Linked DNA regions of Homo sapiens. The protein of the gene in region 2 interacts with the protein of the main gene of each other region in a pairwise test. Each region holds a gene or a part of one and is shown on either strand. Other genes may lie near its edges. The genes, in order: MAPK8IP3 and SULT4A1.

Region 1 (7,560 bases), on a different chromosome or scaffold from region 2:
CCATGATTATCGCAGAACGACAGAAAAATGGAGACACAAGCACCGAGGAGCCCATGCTGAATGTGCAGAGGATACGCATGGAACCCTGGGATTACCCTGCAAAACAGGAAGACAAAGGAAGGGCCAAGGGCACCCCCGTCTAGAATGCCAGAACCAGCGGGTGGCCTTAGGGGCTGTGAGGCAGTGGGGACCTTATTGATGAAAGAAACCGTCTTTGCGTTACACCCGAGTCTGCCTCTCGGAGCAGGGAGCTCACCTTCCGCGACGTGTTCTGAGGGTCTGCATCTTAGGGGGGAGGGCTGGGGCAAATCGCCACCTGTGCCTTTCCTCTGGCCCTGCTGCCCCCACACCCAACTCCGAGGGCCCACGCTGGGGAAAGCGGGAAGCGCTCGCTCCCTTTCCCCCATTAGTGCTCTCTCTGCCTGGATCCCGGCAGAAGCTATGAAAGGGAATAAAGAGAAAAGAAGTACCCAGGGTCGTGGTGTCTTTGCGCTCTGTCTTTAGGACCGGGGAGAGAAGGGCTGACGCTGTGGTCGTGGCCCTGGCCGGGGGGGCGCGGGGGGGGCGGGGTTCGGGCGGTGCGGAGCAGGGCGCCGCGTGGGTGGAACCACCTGGGCGGGTTGTGGGGGATACAGTTAGTGTCCGAGCTGCTGGAGGAGACTTGGCCTCCGCAGCTGCCCTCCGGCCCCCCACGGCTGCCGGGTTCCGGGGTGCAAGTGAAGCAGCCTCCCCGCGGAGGCCGCAGCGCCCCGACCAGGCCTCTTTAAGCGCAGGCCCCGCCCCGGGCGCCACCGCCCCGCCCCGCGGATCCCGCTCCCGCACCGCCATCATGATCTGCCTGGTGCTGACCATCTTCGCTAACCTCTTCCCCGCGGGTGAGCCGCGCGGCGCGGGCCGGGGGCGGGTGGCCGGTGCTGGGCCGGCCTGACGGCCCGTCCCCGCCTGCCCCGCAGCCTGCACCGGCGCACACGAACGCACCTTCCTGGCCGTGAAGCCGGACGGCGTGCAGCGGCGGCTGGTGGGCGAGATTGTGCGGCGCTTCGAGAGGAAGGGCTTCAAGTTGGTGGCGCTGAAGCTGGTGCAGGTGGGGGCGCGGTGAGCGAGCGGGGGCGCGGTGTGGGGGGAAGGGGAGCGGGGACCTGGGGACGCCTAGGTGCCGGGTGCGGGCGCAGGCGGCCTGACCCTTCCGCAGGCCTCCGAGGAGCTGCTGCGTGAGCACTACGCCGAGCTGCGTGAACGCCCGTTCTACGGCCGCCTTGTCAAGTATATGGCCTCCGGGCCGGTGGTGGCCATGGTGAGTATCCGGGAAGCGGGCGGGCGGCTCCGGGACCCCCACCCCCGCGTGATACCGCGCCCGTTCCTCCGCACAGGTATGGCAGGGGCTGGACGTGGTGCGCACCTCGCGGGCGCTCATCGGAGCCACGAACCCGGCCGACGCCCCGCCCGGCACCATCCGCGGGGATTTCTGCATCGAGGTTGGCAAGTAAGGCCCGCCCCGGGGACGGTCCCAGCCCCGTCCGGCCTCCCCCTGTTCAGCCTGCGTGGTACCCGTGCCGGAGGTCTCTTTCCCACGCTCACACGCGCCTCTTCCGCGCAGGAACCTGATTCACGGCAGCGACTCGGTGGAGAGTGCCCGCCGCGAGATCGCTCTCTGGTTCCGCGCAGACGAGCTCCTCTGCTGGGAGGACAGCGCTGGGCACTGGCTGTATGAGTAGCCCGGCAGATGCGCGTCACAGAGGCTCTCACACTCCAGCCTCCTCCAGGGCCCAGGTGGGCGGGCTTCTGGCCCCACCCCACAGCGCTTGGAGCATCCCTTTGGACGGGCTGCTGAACATCCACCTGTCTGGACGTTGCATGGAGGGTGGCGCAGGCCTCTCCAATCCCTGGCGTACAGGGTTTCCTGCCCGAGGAGCTGCTCCAGGAGCCTGCGCGGCTCGCCTGGAAACGTGCCAGGACACTGTCCTGGTGCCCAGCCCAACGTGGTCCAACGTTTTTTTATAATAAAGTCCTCGTTTTCGTTTCGATTTGGGCCCAGGAACAGGCAGCTACGACGTTAAGACATTTATTACATACAGAGCAGATATGTGGGTTTGCTTGCAGGGCCAAAGCCTGAGGAGAATCGTCACCCCTCCCCCAGCCGCCCCACTGCTCAGCCCGGAGTCACTTCGAGATCCTGGGGGAACAGACGAGGGAGCGGACATACATCACAGTGGAGGTGGCAGGGTGGTGGGGAGAAGCCGGCAGCGCAGCGGCTGCAGCCCTCGGTGGCCAGCGGGGCTTGTGGGGCAGCTCCCCAAGATCTGTGCTTCTCTGGTTGGGGGTGGGTGCGGGGGCTGGGCTGCCCTCATAAGGGCCTCCCAGACAGGAGTGCAGTGGGCCTGGAAGGTAGGAATAGGCCAGAGAGGCCCAGCTGGGCAGGGAGAGCAGTCCAGGGTGGCGTCTGCCCTCTGCGGGCTTGGAGTCGGCTGGGGGCGGCTCCATCCTCAGCCCCACGGGCCTCTGCTTGGTGGCCTCTCTGTTGCTCCCTGGAAGCAGGCCACAGCGGGCAACCCTAGGCACTTAGTAGCGTGTCTGGGAGCTGGGCTCCGTGGAGCCCCGTGCAGGAGGCAGGCCCCGGGAGCACATCATCCCCCATCAACCTGAGGCTGAGCCTGTGTCCTAGGACTGATCCCGGAGAGGCCAGGGGCCTCCCCTTCTTCCTGAGGCCTGGGCCTGCCCTGGCAGCCTGAGAAATCCCACCCTGGGGGCTTCTGGGAGGGACAGGACTCCAGGGCCCACTCCTCCAAGGTGAGTCTTCTGCCCAGGCAGAGCCTGGGGGGACACGGGTCAGAACGGGGCTGGCAAGAGCCTGCCTGCATGGGCAGGATGGGGTAGCAGTCTCTGTTCTCAAGCAGCTGCCCCAGGGAGCCGGGCCTCGTGCTTTTATGCCAGCTCCCTGGGCAGGGGACAGCTGGGGTGGGGACAGACAGGATAGAGGCTTGACGACGGGGAGGCCCCAGAGAAGGCCGGCTGGGGTGCAGGCACCTGGGCAGCCTGAGGCCCACCTCCCTGGGCAAAGGCTAGTGCCTGGCCCAGCTCCCCTAGGCAGAGTGAGGGCCCAGGAGGCAGGGTGGCCCCATGAGCAGCATGCAGAGGTGGGCCCAGGGCAGGCAGCCTCGGCGGCGGGGAGCCCCTGCCTCCTCCAGGGGTGCTGGGGAGTAGGAGGCCCAGGGTAGAGCCAGGACCACCTCGGATTCTGCCTGCGCTGGGCCCAAGGTGCCCTGGACTTGAGGACTCTGGGCTGGAAGCTGGCCAGGAGCTGCCCGGGAAACTGTCCCGAGAGCATCTTCCCCTCGGGTGGAAGTTCCCCTCCCCTCCTCCTCCCAGCTGATCCGCATCCCCGCACTCCCTGCCCGCTGGAGGGGCCAGACTCAGGTGAAAGCTGCAGGTTGAGAGGTTAGAAGAGGGGCGGCGGCGCCTGGCTGGCTACCCCGCGGGCCGGGCGGGGGTCAGGTGGTCGGGGGTCCTATGTACAGGTCGGGCCAGGCAGGGCAGCAGCTTCACTCGGGGGTGTAGGACACCTGCCACACGATGATGTGACTGCGCTCTGCCTTGGACAGCACGGGCTTCACCTGGCTCATGTCCCCTGCGCCCTCCTCCGTCTCGTCGTCCTCTCCGTCTCCTGCGGGCAAAGCAGCAGAGTGACGGCCAGGCTCCCCCCGCGCCCAACCTCAGCCCTGTCCCTGGGCCCCGCTCACCAATGCGGAAGTCGATGTAGCCCTCCCCGCCGCTCAGCACCAGCACGTTCCGCAGCTTCTGGCCCTCGACCTCCGAGGCAGGGGCAGCTGGCCCAGGGCCCTCGGCTGGGCTGTCCAGCACACTCCCATTCAGGGTGGCCAGCACGTTCCCTGGGATGGCAGAAGCGATTCAGGACAGCGGCCTCCTGGGGGAGGCGGCGGCCACTGGCATGCAGGGGATGTGGATGGCAGGAGGGGCCCAGCCTCACCTGGCACCGAGACAAAGAACTTCACGGCATCGCGGTGCCCATGGAAGCATAGCTGGGCCTGGGCCATGGAGCAGTAGGGGATGAAGCTGCTGGCCGCCCTGTCACTGCTGTCATCGCCATACACGTGGATGATGCCCCCGGGACGGGCGCCCTCCCCAGAGGTGGGGGATGTCTTATTGGCTGCAGGGAGAGAACCCAGAGGCGCTGAGCCCGCATACAGGTGGAGAGTGGGAGAGGCTCCCGTGAGGGGACACGAGGTGGCTGGGCTTACCTCGGAGCCCCAGGAGCTGGCCTCGGTGCAGGACCACAGCTGGGGACATGGGAGGAGCATGGGAGAAGAGGAGAGCGGTCAGCGTAGGGGCAGCAAGGCACCCTCCAAGGTGGCCCTGCAGAGCCACCCCGTGAACCCACGTACACCTCTGGCAGCACCACTGCCCCTGCAGGTGTGCAGGCCACTCACTCTCTGTCAGGGGGATGGAGATGACCACTCCGTTGCCGGTGCCCACCCAGAGCCGGCTGCCCGCGACAAGCAGGGCCGTGATGCGTACGAAGGAGAAACCCAGCTTGCCAGTGCCTGTGGGGGAGAGCGGTCAGGGTGGCTGGCCTTGAGCACCCCACCACCCCATCTGGCGTGGCCCCTCACCTAGCATCTTGCTGACGTAGGGCTCAATGTCCACGTCCTGTAGATGCTGGTGCGTGTGTGCATGGTAGAGCCTCAGGGTGGAGTCCAGGCGGATGGACACCCATACGCCATCGCCGATCCACGCCAGCTGCCGCACCTGGCTCTCCCGCCGCGGGTGGGCGTCAAATGACTTCTGTGGAGTCATGGCTGCCCATCAACAGGGCTGGGGAGAGGAGAGGAAGTGGGGAGCCCCAAACCTGCCACAGCTCCAGGGCCACCTGCAGTCCCCTCAGACCTCCCAGCCAGCGCCTGCTTTGCGCCTGTTCGAGCCTGAGTCATAGGTGGTACAGGGGAGATGGGACCCACGTAGGGCCTCGTGGACTTCCGTATGGAAGATGCGGGAGAGCTGCTGGCCAGCAGGAGCCTCTTCCCCTCCCCGGGGCCCTGGCCGGCACTCGCCTCTATCTGCATGGTCTTGGGCTGGATGACGTGCACCTTGTTCTTGTAGCCACACCACACGCGGTCGTACACAACAGCCATGCAGCGGATGGAGTGGTGCGGGTGGCCCAGGTCCATTAGGTGATAGTTGCTCAGATCCCACTGGCCATCTGGAGGGAGCCCCGGACACCTGCTCAGGCCTGGCCAGGCCCCACCTCTGCTCAGGGCATCGGGTTGAGACACCCACTGCCAGACTAAGGAGAGGCCTGGAACCCCGGGAGCCCCTTGGCTAAACAATGCCAGGGCCATCAGCTGCCACCCACACACCCCGTGCTGCCAGGCCCCACCTTCACCACGGTGGAAGATGGCCAGGGTCCCGTCCGCCAGAGCCACCAGCACACGGCCTTTGACATGCCTGAAACAGGAATGCGGTGAGCCTGGTTTGGGCCAGGCTGTGCCAGCCCCCTCCGCCCCGTTCCCCCGCGCCGCCCGGCCCTCGGTCTGGGGTCACCCACACCAGGCTCAGCACAGAATCCTTCAGCTTGATGGAGTGCAGGCACTTCTTCCAGTTGGCCACAGCCGAGTGCACATAGAGCCTAGGGAAGGAAGCGGCGATGGGCGAGGGGCTCACCCAGGACCCTCCCTCCACCTTGCCCCGGGCCCTTCCTACCAGCCGTTCTGGGCTCCCAGCCACATGGTGGGTGCAGCACTGCTGCCTGCTCCCGTGGGGTCCCCGCTGGGCTCTGGCTCTGGCCGTGTGCTGCTGCTGTCAGGCTCTGGCCCGTTCTCGCTGCAGGAAGAACGGTGGCTCCAGGGGGGGCCACGGAGCACGCACCTGCCCCAAGACCCCGAGGCCCTTCCCACCTCTGCAAGCCTTCCCTCTGCTCCTGCCCCAGCCCAAGAGCTCACCTGCCAGGCTGGGGGCCAGAGGACGGGGTCGGGGCTGGGTCAGTGAAGACGTGCTCTGTGAGAGGCCCGGGCCGCAATGTGGCTGTCTCTGGCTCGCTGGGCCCAGGGTCTGGCACCTCCGTGGCCTCTGTGGCCTCCTCTGTGGACTGGGACGGGTTGACCTTCCCGTTGGCGATGGTGGCCACCTCCCCTGTGTTAGGAGAGGTGAGCTTGGGCTGGGCAGAAACGTGGGAATGAGGGGATGGGGGAAACTCGCCCAGGACTCACCCTGCCCCTTGTCTAGCACTGGGGTGTCCCCTCGGGAGGAGCAGTTGCTCCGCGGCACGTTGCAGCGGGTGGCACAGCCCACCAGGGTGATACCGGCCAGCACGCCATCTGCGCCCGGGTCCTCTGGGTTCACGTCGCTGTCCAGGAACATCTCCCCGGGAGGGTAGTCGCTGTCGCTGGCCGCTGGGGAGAGGGACGGCCCGTCAGCCTGTGCGGGGGAACCCACTACTGCAAGGGCGTGCCCAGCACTTACACAGGGGCAGAGGAAGCCGGGGCTGGCCTTCCACTTTCCCAGCAGACCCAGCTTCCACACATGCTCCACCCACAGCCCACCCACGACCCTCTGCCTGGAGGTCTGGGACTCCAGCAAGCCTGCTCTGTTGGGTAGGCCCCTGGGCCAAGGGGAGCTGAGTAGTAAGACTCTGGTTCTGGGAGCAAACAACCTGTGATCCTGTGGCAGACCCTCAGGACCCCAGACGGCCCTGTGGTTTCACACCAGAGACCTGGCAGAGCCCTCGGCACCCCTTCGTCCTCCCAGTGTTGGGGCTGGCCCAGAACATCACCAAGGCTACTGCCCACAGGGGTGACACGAAGCTCCTCACCCACACCCCCATAGCCCCTTCGGCCCAACTGGAGGTTTCACATTCAGCATGAGGAAATGTTTTCCTGTGGTCTCCGAGTGATGCTTCAAGCTGCAGGCCGTGCCCACCCGTCACCCTCTAACCAGGTAAGCGTGGGGTCCTGAGTAGGTAGGGAGAAGAGGCCGAGGCTGCCGCGAGCTTCCTCCCAGAAACAGGGCCCAGGGCCTCACTTGACTGGGTGCTGCCCCTCCCACCGTCCACTGCCACATTCCCGTGTCCACAGGACACCCCGAGAAGGCAGCTGCTGTGTGGCAGGGCTTTTACTTAGCTTGCTAGTAAAAGGGAGTGGCGCCCGAGTGGAAACGCCCACTCCAGCTGCTCACCGGGGATGCTGGAGATGCACAGCACGTGCGCGTTGCAGACGGTGAACTGGTCCACCACCGTGCCCGGCTGGTTGGCGTCGATGATCACCACCTTGCTGGTGGTCAGGGTGCTGGTCAGGATCCACACCCGGCTGGAGGTGGCGTCCATTTCAGGGAGCTCCTTGGCCTGTTTCAGGGCACGGGATCAAGGTCAGAGCCCGAGCTTGAGGCTACCCGGTGGCAGCACAGGGCCATGGGGCTCCCAGAATCTGTCAGGATCCAGCCTTGACTACAGCTTGAGGGGACATGGCTGTCCTCCCCCAGGACCAGAACAATGCGGACTCAGGACTGCACTCTAAAGCACTCACAGACACGGTTTCGCCTCCACAGAAGAGG
Region 2 (16,508 bases):
TATGCTGTGACATGAATCAAATCTAAGCAATGCAGCTGGCTACTCGGCCCTGCATTCTCACCAACTCAAGAAGATCTTCCGAGCAAAGACGCAATGTGCTAAAAGAAAACAAATCAAAGAACTGAAATAAAGCAAAACCAAGGTAAACCATGATAAAGCAAACCCAAGGGAAGGAGCATATGGGCACACAGTATGTTCTCGACGCTGCTTCACCACACACACACACACACACACACACACGTGAACCAAAAGGGGTATTTTGGAGAAGGTCACATCCAAGGATAACAAAACACAGCAAAAGCAAAACTAAAAAAGAGCAAATAAATGTTAAATAACAAATATTTATGAAAATGCAGCCAGGAAAGAAGTCGAGAGGGACTGTGGTTCAGTTCACTTCCTCCTGAGGAGTCCACTGCTCTGCCTTTATAAGAGACGGCACTTTGCACTTGACCTTCAAACCGCCCTTAGCCGTGATCAGCCCCTTTTCAGAGAAGAACAAAAAGCCGCAGAAGCTGAAGGCCTGACCTATGTTGCGTTCCCAGAGGGCAGCAGAGCTGAGCTGGAGCCCAGCGCGTCTCTCATCCGCCCCAGGCATCTCCCACTCCATCTTGTGGGGCTGCTGCTGAACAGAGCCATCCACGTTTCTGGGCCCTCCCTGCAAACATTCTCAACCCAGGAAGTGCCCAACACACCAAGTGTCCATCAGGTTCATACTTACCAACAGGGGGCCTCCTATGGCCAAGGCCAGCACCCTGGGATTCAGGGGTTTTAGAGCCTGGGCTCTCCATCATCAAAGCCAAATGCCACACACCCTTAAGGACAGGGGGAGCAACCCAGGTGGATCTGGGGAGGATTCCTGTCAGGAACACTGTCCCCATCTCCAGCTGCCTCATGCCCACTGTCACTTGCCGCCAAGAGCAGGAACTGGCCTCCCTCTGTGCAGCGGCTTAGCTTGGTACTGTCTGCTTAAGTTCACCACCCCGAAGTGGGGCTAGGCCTCACCTGTGCTGCCTGCACCCAGAAGATGCTCAGTCAGCGTCCACTCAGTGAAGGAAGAAAAACGGTGTCTCCTAACTTCCCGCCCACTTCATTTAACTCTCCCACAAGTCAGTTAGAGACTGAGAAACCCATCAGCATGCTTTGCGCTTTGACATGTCATAGCACCAAACCCAGTCCCTGGATCTGCTCTGTGGGGCGTTTGATTTCAGGCCATCTGAGTAGACTCCCTGCTGAGAAACATCCCGCCCACAAAGCCTGAAATGCACTTTTTCAAGTCAAAACACTGTTTGCTTGGAGGCAATGCAAACACCAGCGGGCAGGGTACTCCGTCACTCCATGAGCACTGTGCCATCCATGGGCACCAGCTAACAGAGCACAGGCCATGGGCCAGCTACAGACTGCTGTAAAAGGAGAGCAGGGAGGGCAACAGGGACCGGACTCGGCTCCCTAAGCAGGCAGAGAAAGCAGCCTGGCTGGGGTGGGGAGTGCCTGGGCGGGAGGCAGGGTGGGGCACGTACCCCGGCCCACGGGCAGGGCCTCAGCGTTGCAGCACTGGTCCACCAGCTGGTGGCAGTGCTCCGTCAGGGCTTCCAGCTGGGCCTTGTCACAGGACACCCCCAGGAATCTGGCCAGCTGCTCCACCATCGTCACCAGGTCCTGGAAGACAAGTGCAGAGAGCAGAGCAGCCCATCAGAGGCGGGGCCTTTTACTGGACACGACCCCAGGCTGGGCACACGCTGAGGACTTTTTACACACGGCCTTCCTTACTTAATGCTCACAAGGCTGACATCAGCCTTGTCCAGAAATAACACTAAGAGGTTAAGAAATCGCCCAAGTGTGCTCAGCTCTCACGTGGAGATCTTGAATTCAAACCCTGGTCCTCCAGGGAATTGGGTTGCAGACATGAGGTCTTAATAGAGGTGTGGTTAAGTTTTAACAGGAGCAAGAAGTAAAAAACATATTTCAGAACATGGTTCTTGTGAGGAGCAAGACCTAATGGGCTCCTCTTTCCCTTCCTGCTGCCTGTCAGCTGGCGTCTGGGCTGGCCCTTGGGAGCGCAGGGAGGCCCCTCTGGTCTCCAGATGGCCCTGCACTGGGCAGGGAGCCCGCTTCATCACAGGCAAGATTCCGTCATGCCTGCCATACCCTGCCCCATTATTTTACCACGCCTGACAGCGGAATGTCACTGATGTGGCTAACCGTCTTGAGGGGGCCATTCCCCAGCCCCCCACCCCTGCCACTTTCTCCCCAAGAGATGAGGCTCCTCGTCTTCTCAATCACAGCCCTGAGCTGTCACCTAGAGGTGCCTTGGTCCCATTAGGAAGATGCTGGAGGCTGTTTCCTCTCTGGAAGGTTTGTAAAGCAAATTCCCGCATTAAAGCCTCTAAAAAGTCCTACAGTGAAAAGATGATTTAATTTCTTTATTGCAGCACTTCGGAAACCTTAAAAGACAATGTTCTCTGACCGCTGGTGTGGGAGTCAGCTGGTGTGGGCGCCAGCTCCTCCCTGGGTCCCCACAGTGCGCTGACTCCTGCAGCAGCGGTTGCAGGTCTGATTCTGGCCTCGCACTGCCTTCCACAGGCAGGGGTGTGGTGCATCCCGGGCGCAGGGCTTGACTCAAGAGTCAGAGGAACAGTTATTAGAGAATGAGCCAAGGAATACAGAGCTCCCTTTCCCTTGCCCTGCCACCAAGAACTCCATTTCAAAGAAAAAGGGTAGCAATGGAGAAAGAGTGAAGAAACCTGGCTCTCAGAAGAGATGCCGCAAGAAGGACACAGCTGGCTTAAAGTCAGCCTGCTGGAGCGTTCAGCAGAATCCTCGTGGGGCAGCTCACTGCGGCGTGACGTCCATCTCAGAGGAAGGGGCGTTTCTGCCAGGCTACATCCAGCAACATGTCACAGGACACTTGCTGGTTATGAAACCCAGCAGGGATCAGGCAGAACGCCCAGGTCAGCTGGCAGGAACGGCCCACTTCACCTCTCTGAGCCACACATTCCCCATCTGGAACTAGCGACAGGGCCGCAGCAAGAGGCCGCACACCACGGCACGGAGCCAGCGTGTTGGGGTCGTGCCTCCACATGGGCAGGTACTAGCTGGCCACACGGTTGCAGTCAGGGCACCCCGTGACTGGTGAGAACACCCTGCAAGATGACTGAGGATGAAGTGGGAATATACCCGGGGTGCCTGGCACAGTGCCCGGCTCGTGGGAAAGGGCCACTGTAATTGCGGTGCAGTGGAGCGCAGGCAGTGAGCGCTCTGGCAGGAAGCATTCCCTCTCAACCCCAGGGTGAGAACACATGGACCCACACCACAGTCCTGGAGACAACCATGCTCACTCGGGGCTAGTTTTCTGGAGTAAGATGTAAACAATATTAATTCCTAAAAATGTGACTTGACCTCCATTAAAACAAGCCATTACTGAGGTTCCTAAAAAAAGAATAAACCCATGCCAATTAGAAGGCGAAACGCTGACTGTCCCAGGGATGCCATTGAGTCACAGACCGGCTTTGATAGAAAATGAAGTCCCAGCACTGACCCCGGCAGCTCTTAAAGTTCCAGGCAGGGCTGGTGGCCTTGACCCTGACGGACTGAAAGCAACAGGTCTGACCACTTTCACTGGGGAGCCTGGAAGGCAGAGAAGGATGAACTTCCCTTTAAGGGCTTGGAGTAAAGTGTGTGTTTGGACCTTAAAACTTCAGTCCATCATTGCTGAGGAAACTGAAGCTCCAGGAAGAAACTGCTGACCCGGCAGCTGCCCCCGAGATGTGTGGGCAGCTGGCCAGCTGGGCGCTTTCCCTATTCACCTTCTCATGTTGGGGCCTCAGTGGCCCTGGGCAGTGCATGTTCAATGCTATGTCATTGGTGGCAAAATAGTGACCAGCTGACAAATGCACACCCAGGACCCCAGAAATTCCACTCCTGGGTATGGGCCCGATAAGCACAAGTGCTGACGTCCACCAAGACTCCAGAACGTCCACGGAGGCTTTATTCATGACCACCCCAAAGTGAAAATGGCCTCCACGCCCGGCAACACTGGATGGATGAAGCGGTGGCACATTCGTGCTGCAACGGAGCACCGACCACAGCACAGGAAAGAACAGAGCTCCGCGCCACGCAGGTGGAGGAGCCTCGCCATCTGCGCAGAAGCCAGACAGCAAAACCCATGCGAGTTCCACACCTGACAGGTTCCAAAGAGGCAACGCCAAGCTCCGGTGAGGGAGATGAAACCGCGGTGGCCTCTGGGAAGCAGGGGTATCAACTGCAAGAAGCTGGAATGTTCTGGATCTGGAAGGTGGCTGCCCAGATGTGACAGGTAAAAGGCTGTCAAGCCCCACGTGTGTGCCAAGTACACCTCACTGTGCATGACACCACCACAAAAAGGTACACACCAGGCGGGCCCGTGCCAGGCCTGCACGTAGGTGATGCTCACACAGTCCTCCCAGCCACACAGTGACGGGGGTGCTGTCACCTCCCCACTTTACAGAGGCTTGGGGTGGTCAGGACTTTGGCCTGAGCAGCCAGCATCCAGAGCCCACGTTGTTCCCCAGCACCACAGGAAACCACGGCCGACGGCTTCACAGAGGTCAGCGGCAGGACCAGGGTTCCAACCTGCTTGGGCTACACCTTCATCTCTACCACACCGTCCTCTGGGCGTGAGCAGGGACCCTAAATGTGGCTCTGTGTCAAGTTGTGTGGACAAGAGGCAGACAGGTGGAGGCCCATGTAGAGTCAGACAGGCTCACCCAGCAGTCGGCTCCATGGCGCGTGTGACCTTAGACCGCCACATGACCTTGCTCTTTCCTCACCATAACACAGAGCCATGGTGAGGACCCATGTGGGGAACCGACAGCATGCGCCAGCCGGCAGCAGACCTGCAGACGGGGTCCTTCCTGCACATCGAGCAAGCCCCGAAAGGCCACGCTCCTGCGAAGGCCGACCTGGCCCGTGCTGACCACAGGCCCCAGTGTGTGAGCACAAAGCAACCCAAGAACAACTGCAGGAAACGCAAGGCACACCCCCACACCCCAGGATCACAGTGCACACACCCCCACCCCGGGGCTACAACGCACACACCCCCACCCCAGGATCACAGTGCACACACCACCCGCCCCAGGGCCACAACAAACACCCCACCACCCCAGGGCCACAAGGCACAGCCCCCACCCCAGCGCCATAGGGGACCTCGTGTGGCTCTGTTCACAGCCAGGTCTGGCGTCTTCCTGCAGGTGTGGGGAAAGTACAAGGCTGGCCTTCCTACCCCTGGGCTTTCTGACCTCCAACTCCAGCACTGGCTCACCCTCCCCAGCACCCAGCTCTCCTGTCTGTCTCCCAGCAGACCTCCTCCCCATCCCAGCTCCCACCCACTGCTACTCAACCTAAACCTGCTTGTCTGTCAGCCACTGACACTAGCAGCCCCACAGGCTGGCCTTGTCTGTCCCCTACATCGACATGGTTTCCAGCTGGCACTCAGGCCTCTGCCCCACAGGAGCAACCTCACAGTCCACATCTGCACCCCATCGTCTCTCCTCTTTCCCATGGGCCAGGCCACAGGTGTCTCCTGCCTGTCCTGCCCCTGCCACCAGAAGCCCCTCTGCCTAGGCTCCAGCCCCAAGCCCTGCCTCTGCCTGGACTAAGACCTTGTCCCATTAGTTCTTTTCAACCCCTCCCCCAGCTCCTGCTTTCTCCCAACACCTAGAAAATGCTCAGTCTCTTCTGTGGTGACCCAGGCTCCCCAAGCTACCAGCTGCCTCGTGTCTCACTGCAGACAGTGGCCTCTCCTCAACGTCCCATCAACCACCACTGTAAAGCACTCCAAAGGCCCCCTGATAAGCCAAGCCCCAGTCCCCTCCCCACACCCGCCTTCCTGGGTCCCTCAGCCTCGCACGGCATGGCTGCCCTGCCACACCTCAGGCTTTGACAGGCTGCTCCCCACACCCCCAAGCCCCCTTCCAGCCCACAGACTGTCCCGCCCCCTCCTCTGTCCCTCCTCAGACCCCTCCTCCTCCTCCCACACGCCCACTGTAAAGGGCTCCTGCGTCAGGAGCTGCCAGGCCGAGGGCCAGGGCACCCGGAGGACAGCTGCTCCGGCAGCACTCACCCGATGCATGTCTTCATACTTGAGAAAAAGCACGTTCGAGTCCATGCGGTGCTCCCAGAACTCCTGCACGTGCTCAAACCAGGAGCCGTAGCCCACTGCGGAGACAGGGGACAGGGTGAGCCACACGGCTGGGCAGGAGAAGCGCACACATGGGGCCATCCCCACCCCACAGGGCTGCCCTCCTGCCACCCAGCAGCCGTGATGAGGACATCGTGATCCCTGCGGACAAGTCTGGCAAAGGCCCCCGAGGCACTCACGTCTTGAGCCATCCCAGCCCTCCCGCCTTCGGCACGCCTTGAAGGCCTGACCATGGGGGTGACAGCCTCTGAGAAGGTGGTCCCTGTGGTACCTGGCAGTGGACCGCAACAGTGCCCGTTACTTTATCCGCTTAACAAGTGGTCACCAGGAAGCCCTGGAACAAAGCCCAGAAGAACTGGGACAGGGGCCGCTAGGGTTGCTAGTGGGGACAGGGTGGGGTATAGGAAGCTGTAGGACAGATCCAGAACACGGGGCCCTGCTGGGCAAGAGGGCGACAGGCAGTAGCCTCAGTAAATCGAGGAACTCTCCATGGGACCTGAAAGCTGAAGACGGGCAGGGAGTCCTGTCCTGACCTCCAAGAGGCCGGCACTCCCGCACCCACACCGCGGCCCTGTGCTTCCCGCGCCCCCACCGCGTCCCTGTGCTTCCCGCGCCCCCACCGCGGCCCTGAGCTTCCCGCGCCCCCACCGCGGCCCTGAGCTTCCCGCGCCCCCACCGCTGCCCTGAGCTTCCCGCAGCCACACCGCGGCCCTGTGCTTCCCGCGCCCCCACCGCGTCCCTGTGCTTCCCGCGCCCCCACCGCGGCCCTGAGCTTCCCACGCCCCCACCGCGGCCCTGAGCTTCCCGCGCCCCCACCGCTGCCCTGAGCTTCCCGCAGCCACACCGCGGCCCTGAGCTTCCCGCGCCCCCACCGCGTCCCTGTGCTTCCCGCGCCCCCACCGCGTCCCTGTGCTTCCCGCGCCCCCACCGCGGCCCTGAGCTTCCCGCGCCCCCACCGCGGCCCTGAGCTTCCCGCGCCCCCACCGCTGCCCTGAGCTTCCCGCACCCACACCGCGTCCCTGTGCTTCCCGCGCCCCCACCGCGTCCCTGTGCTTCCCGCGCCCCCACCGCGGCCCTGAGCTTCCCGCGCCCCCACCGCTGCCCTGAGCTTCCCGCAGCCACACCGCGGCCCTGAGCTTCCCGCGCCCCCACCGCGTCCCTGTGCTTCCCGCGCCCCCACCGCGTCCCTGTGCTTCCCGCGCCCCCACCGCGGCCCTGAGCTTCCCGCGCCCCCACCGCGGCCCTGAGCTTCCCGCGCCCCCACCGCTGCCCTGAGCTTCCCGCACCCACACCGCGGCCCTGTGCTTCCCGCGCCCCCACCGCGTCCCTGTGCTTCCCGCGCCCCCACCGCGGCCCTGAGCTTCCCGCGCCCCCACCGCTGCCCTGAGCTTCCCGCAGCCACACCGCAGCCCTGAGCTTCCCGCGCCCCCACCGCAGCCCTGAGCTTCCTGCGTGGCCTGCGCTGCCTCAGAGCCCTTGGTGTGGGGTGGGGCACACAGGCAGGGACCAACTCATGGAGTCTCCAGCCTGCTTTGCAGTGTTCTTTATAAAAGCTATGGATCCTCCCCTGCCTGCCACATGCCGTGCCCACCACTGTGACGGTTTCTTCCACGGGGACCTCCATACGACAGAGAGCAAGGCGTCAGTTAAGGATCACTGGGCAGTCGGGGGCTGGCGGTGCTAAGCAGCAGGAAGCAGCCCAGCTGGATGAGGAGCGCTGGCTGTAGAGACTCCTCTGCTGGGCCCTGCCACCCGGCAGGATTCCCACGGAGGAGCTGCACCCACATCCCACCAAAACCTCCAATTTCTGCAGAATAAAGCTGAGTCCCAGAGAAGGGAAGAGACTTGCCCAAGTCACCAACAGGTCAATAATCATGGGGGCCCAGACAGGGAAGCCCAAGTGGCCCGACTGCAGCCCATCATCGGTAGCTAAGTCCAAGCAGATGAGTCCCTGGGGCAGAAGGAAGAGTCAAATGGCCCTGTGAACACGGAAGGTAAAGAAAAACCCCACTTCATTCCAAGGAAGCATGTAGCAAGATGTCAAAAACAGACATCCCGGTGACATGGAGTTGCAGGGGGAAATAGTGTGAGGACTCTGGAAGGAGCAAGGCATGAAGGACTGCACGTGTGGTCCTGCGCTGATGTGAGGAGCAAGTGCACGGAGTCCCCACAGCAGGAGGGGGGACGGGAATGAGCTGTAGGTTGCTGGGTGGAGAGCCTTCCCACCGGAATGCCTGAGAGGAGGCGAGGACGCCGGGCCCCTCCACGCTTTTCCCTGGGCTCCACGCTGCTCTGTGAAAGGGAAGGGAATCATCCATCTGGAATATGAAGGAAGAATAACAAAACCTCACTGTCCACCCCAGAGAAGACACGGTCACAGAGGCTGCATGCCACACTGCGGGTGCCACAGGGAGCCTGTCTACACAGCGTCCTCACACTGCAGGTGCCACAGGGACCCTGTCTACACAGCGTCCTCCGACTGCAGGTGCCACAGGGACCCTGTCCACACAGCGTCCTCCAACTGCAGGTGCCACAGGGAGCCTGTCTACACAGCGTCCTCCAACTGCAGGTGCCACAGGGACCCTGTCTACACAGCGTCCTCACACTGCAGGTGCCACAGGGACCCTGTCTACACAGCGTCCTCCAACTGCAGGTGCCACAGGGACCCTGTCTACACAGCGTCCTCACACTGCAGGTGCCACAGGGACCCTGTCTACACAGCGTCCTCACACTGCAGGTGCCACAGGGATCCTGTCTACACAGCGTCCTCCAACTGCAGGTGCCACAGGGAGCCTGCCTACACAGCGTCCTCACACTGCAGGTGCCACAGGGATCCTGTCTACACAGCGTCCTCCAACTGCAGGTGCCACAGGGACCCTGTCTACACAGCGTCCTCACACTGCAGGTGCCACAGGGATCCTGTCTACACAGCGTCCTCCAACTGCAGGTGCCACAGGGAGCCTGTCTACACATCAAACTGAAGGCTCCACAGGGACCCAGTCTACACAGCATCCTCACACTGCAGGTGCCACAGGGACCCTGTCTACACAGCGTCCTCACACTGCAGGTGCCACAGGGACCCAGTCTACACAGCGTCCTCACACTGCAGGTGCCACAGGGACCCAGCCTACACAGCGTCCTGACACTGCAGGTGCCACAGGGAGCCTGTCTACACAGCGTCCGCACACTGCAGGTGTCACAGGAAGCCTGTCACGGGGCATCCTCACACTGCAGGTGTCACCTGCCTCCAGGGCCCTTTGCCCTCCAGCCTCGCAGAGCTGGTCACCAGGCTCACGCGTGGTTGTTTATGCAGGACCCTCCTGCTGTTGCCCTGTGCTGTGGCCTCTGATCCTGGCCTGTCTGGACATGGTGTGCTTTCAGGGTTCCCGTGCATATTAGTTTCCACCGTCTTCAGGACATCAGGGAGGGGGTCCAGCGGTCCTCAGTATGTGCGTGCTCACTGAGTGACAATGAAGGACGGAGCACAGGGGTGCTGAGTGGGCCTGTCTACAGGGTTTGCTGGGACCAAGGCACGTGTGTGGGACCTTGCACTCAGTGGAGGATGGGTCTGTGACTGTGGTGACATGGAGAGGCCTATATTAAGAGAACTGTTAACTGCTCTGGCCTGAGCAAGATGTTTGTAGCCTCTTCCACGTGCTGGTCTGAATGTGGGTGTTGTCCCCATGCTCTGCAGAGAGCAGAGTCCATGCTGGACCCTAGGAAACAGCTTCAGAAGTCCATGAGTGGGTTGCTCCAAATGCCTGGTGGACCACAAGAGCAGGTGCCAGGGCCAAGAGGCCATGGGAAGAGGGGCTGGACAGAAGGCCCAGAGCAGGCTCAGGGGGCTTCAGGGTGCGGTCTGGGGCCTCCTACCCCTTGCAGGCAGGGCCACTTCTCAGCAGGCACAGTGGAAGCAGAGGCTCAAGGGCAGGAAACAGAATCATCCCAGGGCTTTGAGGCCCTCGTGGGTTTTCAAACTGCAAGCAACAGAGTCAGCCTGTGGCGCCCTGCACCGCCCCGCCAAGAGGTCCCCTTCAACCAGGCCTGGCAGCAGCTCTAGGTCCACTGCCCTAAGTTCCACTTAAACTCGAGGGCATTACGTTCCAGGATCTCTGCTACATGATTCATCCTCATCCTGTCACATAAGCCCCCTGCAGAGCCCCCGATAAGCCACACTGAACAATGCGGCTCAGCATCACTTCCGTTGGGAAATAAAACAGAAAGTGTATTTTCAGCCTTGGGTAGGGAAGAGTCTCAGTGTAGATTTAATTAAAGTGCAGCTATTATGACACATTTCAAAGCTCCTCTGCCTGCACACCCTACACTGCCCACTTTCTGTCCCAGGACCTCCCAAAGCCATGGCTGGCCATGGGGAGCCCCCTCAGGAAGGCAGGAACAGAACTGCACTGAGGAGCTCTGCCACCACTCCCAAGGGAAAGGTGGCCCAGCGGGGCAAGAGAGTAAGGACTGGGAGCGAGTGGGACCAAGACAAGAGGCCTGGTCCCGCCTTCCTTGAGAGCAGGGCAGGGTGGAACCCAGCCTCGCTCCTCCTCAGGGGCTGGAATGGAAGCCAGAGAACAGCACATGGCACTCTCGGCCCGGCTGTCCTCCTCCCTGCGGGCACAAGTGTGCCCTGCCCCGGAGGCTTGCCTGTGCCTGAGGTTCAGCCCGGCTGTCCTCCTCCCAGCGGGCACAAGTGTGCCCTGCCCCAGTAGCTTGCCTGTGCCTGAGGTTCAGCCAAAGGCCCATGCCTGTCACACTTAGCTCCAGTCTCCACTCCAGGCCCTATCACTAACAGTAGTGATACCTGGGCCTCCATTTTTACTGTTTTCATTCTCTCCCTGTTTGAAACCCAGGTAGGAAGGATGGATGTTTTAACTGGGGAACTTCTCAGACACCCCGACAGTGTGGTAGAAGAGAAGGGCTCTGGGTTCAGATGGACCTGCTCTGACACACACCAGCTCTAGGATCTCGGCCACGTTCACGACCCTCGGCCTCAGTGTCTTCATCTGTAAAGTGACCGCGGGCCTGACCTACATGGTCACTGTCAGAACTGGAGACCGTGTCGGGGAAGCACCCAGCACCTGCCAGGCCGTCCACGACAACAGACGGCTCCGGTTCTAACATGCCGCCAGGCTGCAACACTCACGCTTATCATTCATAAACCTCCGGCAGAATTCTTGAAAGGTGCCTCGGTAGCTCATGGTCCGCAGAGAGCGGTGGAACTGATAATAAGACACCACCAGATCCTTGGGGTTGCGAGCCATATAGATGACCTGTGGGTGACAGGAGCAGGATGAGTCCGTGTCTCCTTCCCTCCCAGGCAGGGCTGCCCCGACACAGGCCAGCCTCCCTGAACCTGCTGGTGCACCTCACAAACCAACACCTGCTTCCAGCGTCCAGCTGGGGCCCATGTGCACGGCTGCTGGGTGCTGCTGCTTCGCTGTTTCAGCAGAAAGGTGCCCTGTCCATGCAGTAGAGCTGGCCAGGAAAATTACTTGAGCATTTTATTTCTGTCCTCTAGAACTACTTTAAAATCTGCAGAAGACAAAAAACTTACAACCCTGATCCTGGTGGTAAGAACACAGGCCTCTGGCCGGGTGCGGTGGCTCGCATCTGTAATCCCAGCACTTTGGGAGGCCGAGGTGGGTAGATCACCTGAGGTCAGTAGTTCAAGACCAGCCTGACCAACATGGTGAAACCCTGTCTCTACCAAAAATAGAAAAATTAGCCGGGTGTGGTGGCACATGCCTGTAGTCCCAGCTACTCAGGAGGCTGAGGCAGGAGAATCGCTTGAACCAGGGAGGCAGAGGTTGCAGTGAGCCATGCCACTGCACTCCAGCCTGGGCGACAGACTAAGACTCCGTCTCAAAAACAAAAAAACAAACAAACAAAAAAACCCCACAGGCCTTGGCATTTGATGCAATTGAAAAACAAAGAGAATTCGGCCCAAAGCAGGTACACGCCTGCTGGCCTGCTTTGGATTAGGCTGGCCACAGCCATGTTTGACTGTGAGGTAAAAACCAACCCGTCGTTAAAAACTTGGGTAAAATGCTAGAGACGCATGACCCAAGACCACCTCAGAAGGGATCTTCACGTGTGGGCTCCTTGGGAAGACAGCCCCCAAGGCCAGGTAAGTGCCAGGGACCTGCATGTGTATTGCACAGGGACCTTGGGCTCCTCTTGGTGGGGACTCATCTCGGGAGGCAGAGGAGGTGCCAGCTTACCTTGGAGTCTCCATTGTGGAGGTCAGAGGGCAGAAAGCGGTAGGGCAGGTGGCTCTTGATGAGGCGGGGAGAGGTCAGTTCCTGCGTGGAGTCAGAGGGAGAGGCAGGTCAGAGGAAAGGGTGAGACCAAGGGGAGGAGTGGGGCCAAGGGGAAGGGGGCCAGAGGAGGAAGGAAGGGGTGGGGTTCAGGGGAAGTGGAGTTATCAGAGGGAACGGCGGGTCTAGGGTAGCGGAGGGGTCAGGAGAGCGTCAGGTAAGAGGGAGGGGTGAGGCCAGAGGGAGGGGTAAGGCCAGGAGCAGGGGGACCAGAGGACGAGGGAAGGGGTGGGGGCCAGGGGAGAACGGTAGGGGTCAGAGGGAAAGGTGAGGCCAGGAGTAGGGAGGGGTCAGAGCAAGAGGAGGCAAGGCTGTCATGCCCTGGTCTCCTGTCCTGGAGAGAGTCTCGGACCCAGCCAGGACAGCCTCCCTTGTCACCTGAGACAAAGATTGGAGACATGAGCACACCCCGGCTGGACCCTGGCGGTAGAGACAAGGGTCCTTGACTTTGGCCTGGGGAGTCCACCCATCATAGCCACAGCCACAGGATCTGCTCAGGGGGCCTGGGAGCTACTGCCCCGGCTTGGAGTGGCGTCGGAGGGCAGCAGAGGCAGCAGGAGGCACCAGCCCCAGTGGGTGCTGCCAGGCTGGCGCTGGACCGCACAGCAACCTGGCCTGATGCGCTCACTGCTTCCACCTGCCCCTCGGGCCTTCCCATCAGCAGCCAGGGTTGTCCTGTAAAGCAGCCAGCACCGTGCTCTCTGCTCAGAGCCCGTCTTCCCAGCTGCCCTAGGAATGGGCCCAGCCCTCATGAAGCCAAAGAGCCCGGAACCGTTGCCTGCAACCCCCAGGCTTGCCTACTGCTCTGGAAGGCCAGGCCCCTCGTGCCGTGGGGTCTTTGCTCACGGGTCCCTCTGCTCCTCTCCTCTTTCAGGACCTGCCTCAGACATCCCCAGAGGAGACTGCTGGTCCCCCCCTGATCTGCTCCCCTCCCAGCGCTGATCGCTGGCTAGCTACTATGGCTTCCTGGGCTGAAAGGCCGGGCCTGATGCTGTCAGTCACTGCTGCCCCCAATGCCAAGAGCAGTGCCTTGAACGCGGTGGCCCTCGGCACGGCAGTACGGAACGACTCCCAGATGGTTCCGCACGGACAAGGAGAGCAAAATGGCCGTTCAGGCCCGAGAGGCTGGGGTGCAGACAGGGGCCCTGGAGGGCCACAGGGGTCTTGTGCCATGGGGAGGGATGGCACTCTCAGAGCATGACACAGGGTGGGATGGCACTCTCAGAGCTGGGTTTTGGAATGCTGCTCCAGAGGGAGGAGGACAGGTGTGGTGGAGGCTGCAGTTCTGGCCCATTCAGGTGTGAGGCTGGAACTAAAGAGGTGCAGCGGACGGGGTGGGGGTGCCTGTGGGTGTGTCTGAGGGGTGCGGGGAGCAGGGCTCTGGGGTAACATTTATTCATTCTTGATACCAAATATTTGATGCAAACACATCCTACCCAGCTCCCTCAGAGGAGGGCCCCCAGGGGAAAGCGAGGGGGAGGCCCAGGGCCTGCTCCCCACAAATGGCCCCTCAGCCCTGTGCCCCCCAGGCATTGACTTCCTTTCCACTTCACAGACTCCCTGACGCTGATGTGTCACCCACGCCCTCATCGGGTTCCAGGTCACTGCCAGCTCAGGCCTGCCAGCTTCTCCCCTGGCTATCTGGGGCTATCTGCTCTCCCCTAATCCACAGAGCCCCCAGGAGCAACTGTCAATCATCAGGGTGTAACGGTAGAAATACCCTAAAGAGGTGCTGGGACAGGTGCTGCTGGCCCTGGGTACCTTGATGATGTCCAGGCCCGGCTGTGGGTACTCCAGGACCGGGAGCTGCTCGTCGATGTTCATCAAGCCGATCTCATCGGGGTCAGCGCCCTGGCTCACCAAGTAGACCACCTCCTGCAGCAAGCTGGTGCCTGGAGGGGAGAAGCCCCAGCGCGGGGTGCTCAGAGGAGGCCCACGCGCCCGGCCCTGTGCTCGGGTCAACACCTGCTGCCCAAGAAGGGGCTCAAGAGCCCCAGGTGGGGCCCAGGGCGACTGAGTCTGGGAAGAGGAGCGCGCCCCGCACGGTCTCAGCCTGAATCCCCCGTGCTGGGTCATGGGCCAGTCGGCTCTGATTCTCAGAGGGGCCAGGATGCTTCACAGGGCTGTTAGGAGAACAGAACAGAACAGAACCCAGCCCCTGTTATGGAAGTGGCTCAGGGGCTGTAACAGGTGGGTGACTCGGCCCAACCTGAGGCTGAACTTGGCAGTTTACGCAGGAATGATGGGTCGGGGGAATGACCCGCTAGCCAAGATGAGGAAATGACGTCTGCCCAGTATCTACTGAAGCTATATACACATAGCCCATGATCCAGGAACTATCCTGGGGAGACACCCAAGGGAAGCCAGTGCTTGTCCACCAGTACGCAGGTTCTAGAACAGTCTTGGCCACATCATTCATAAAGTCACTTGGAAACACAAATACCCATCAGCAATAGAATGAGTAAGTTGTGACAGTCACCATGGTGTACTACACAGCAACAAAAAAGAATGAACTGCAGACATAGCACGGCCAAGCCCCACAGATAGGATGTGACGGAACTGCAGACACAGCATGGCCAAGCCCCACAGACAGGATGTGACGGAGTCCTCCCACCCCAAGGCGCTCCAGGGTACAATCCTGTATGTCCCATTGGCATGAGGTTCAAGGATGGGCAAAACTCAACTATAGTGACAGAAGTGAGAACAGTGTTTATATTTTGGGTTGGTTACTGATTCAGAGAAGACACAAAGGCGATTCCGGGGTCTAGAGCTATTAACTGGGTCTGGTGGGAATTACATGGAAGCATGCTACATTATGATATGTGCTGGTTTCCATCTATGGCTCCTGGCTCATTATCCCCCCAGCCCTTATTACAGTCTTTTGTCATAATATTGGACCACTCCAGGCCTTAGAAGCAGGTCTCAGTAAACAGCATCTCTCTCTCTCTCTCTCTCTCTCTCTCTGACCTTCTCCTGCCCCCACCCCTTTCACCTGTTCCTTTTTCTCCCCAAGGCAGGCCATACAAACTGAAAATATACTTGAATCTTCCCCCGCCTTTCTGTCTTGGAGCTGGCTATGAAGAAACTCTCTGGGCTGGGCACAGTTACTCATGCCTATAATCCCAGCACTATGGGAGGCCAAACCGGGAGGACTGCTTGAGGCCAGAAGTTCGAGACCAGCCTGCGCAATATAGCAAGACATTGTCCCTACAAAAAATAAAAAATAAAAACATTAGCTGGGCATAGTGGCATACATCTGTAGTGCCAGCTACTCAAGAGGCTTAGGTGAGAGGATCGCTTGAACCCAGGAGGTAGAGGCTGCAGTGAGCTGTGACTGCACCACTGCACTCCAGCCTGGGCAACAGAGTGAGAATCTATCTCAAAAAACAAAAAGAAAAATTCTCTGACCTGCCTTTTCTGACTGTGTGGGTCATGAGACCCCCAGTTCAGAAGGGGAGGAAGGAATGTCGCACAGGCAGGCCTTCCTGGGCTCCCCACTCCGACTGACAGTGTTGGGCTCACAGCCCTTTTGTCCAGTCCCATTTCTACATGCTTCCACCATGCCTAGCCAATGAGGGTTCCATAAAAGGCCCAAGAGGACAGGCTTTGAGGAGCTTCCAAAGAGCTGAACACATGGGGGTTCCTGGAGGGTGGCTTGCCCAGAGAGGGCATGGAAGCTCCGTACCCTCCTCCATCCTCCACAGACGTCTCTTCCTCTGGTATTCATCAGAAGCCTTTGTAACATCCTTTATAATAAACCAGGAAATGTCAGTGTTGCCCTGAGTTCTGTGAGCCGCTCTGGCAAATTAGTCAAACGTGGGCAGGGAGGGTGTGCGAACCCCAATTTATAGCCAGTGGGTGAGACACACAGGCAAAACAACCTGGGGCTTGTGGTTGGCATCAGAACTGGGGGCAGTCTTGTGGGACTGAGACCTCGCCCCGTGGGATCTCGTGCTGTCTCCAGGTGGGCAGTGCTGGAATTGAACTGGACTGGGGGACATCCAGCTGGT

Evidence for each region.
Region 1: the proteins of SULT4A1 (region 2) and MAPK8IP3 interact in binary tests that used the Homo sapiens proteins (3 or more experiments, as listed by UniProt).

What each region holds. Positions count from the first base shown.
Region 1 is NC_000016.10:1,764,804-1,772,363, reverse strand, and holds the end of MAPK8IP3 (C-Jun-amino-terminal kinase-interacting protein 3), read right to left. Parts: intron 7,352-7,560; coding exon 7,186-7,351; intron 6,405-7,185; coding exon 6,222-6,404; intron 6,145-6,221; coding exon 5,955-6,144; intron 5,836-5,954; coding exon 5,716-5,835; intron 5,642-5,715; coding exon 5,561-5,641; intron 5,461-5,560; coding exon 5,393-5,460; intron 5,216-5,392; coding exon 5,067-5,215; intron 4,801-5,066; coding exon 4,629-4,800; intron 4,560-4,628; coding exon 4,446-4,559; intron 4,296-4,445; coding exon 4,257-4,295; intron 4,166-4,256; coding exon 3,986-4,165; intron 3,888-3,985; coding exon 3,738-3,887; intron 3,662-3,737; coding exon 3,540-3,661; 3' UTR 2,013-3,539; downstream 1-2,012. Other genes in the region: MRPS34 (small ribosomal subunit protein mS34), read left to right, coding at 1-143; NME3 (nucleoside diphosphate kinase 3), read left to right, coding at 830-875, 954-1,095, 1,193-1,294, 1,371-1,475, 1,598-1,715.
Region 2 is NC_000022.11:43,827,543-43,844,050, forward strand, and holds part of SULT4A1 (sulfotransferase 4A1), read right to left. Parts: intron 14,391-16,508; coding exon 14,260-14,390; intron 12,484-14,259; coding exon 12,403-12,483; intron 11,452-12,402; coding exon 11,325-11,451; intron 8,494-11,324; coding exon of another isoform or gene 8,486-8,493; exon of another isoform or gene 7,554-8,485; intron 6,193-7,553; coding exon 6,098-6,192; intron 1,657-6,097; coding exon 1,518-1,656; intron 99-1,517; coding exon of another isoform or gene 58-98; exon of another isoform or gene 1-57. UniProt on the Homo sapiens protein: Atypical sulfotransferase family member with very low affinity for 3'-phospho-5'-adenylyl sulfate (PAPS) and very low catalytic activity towards L-triiodothyronine, thyroxine, estrone, p-nitrophenol, 2-naphthylamine, and 2-beta-naphthol.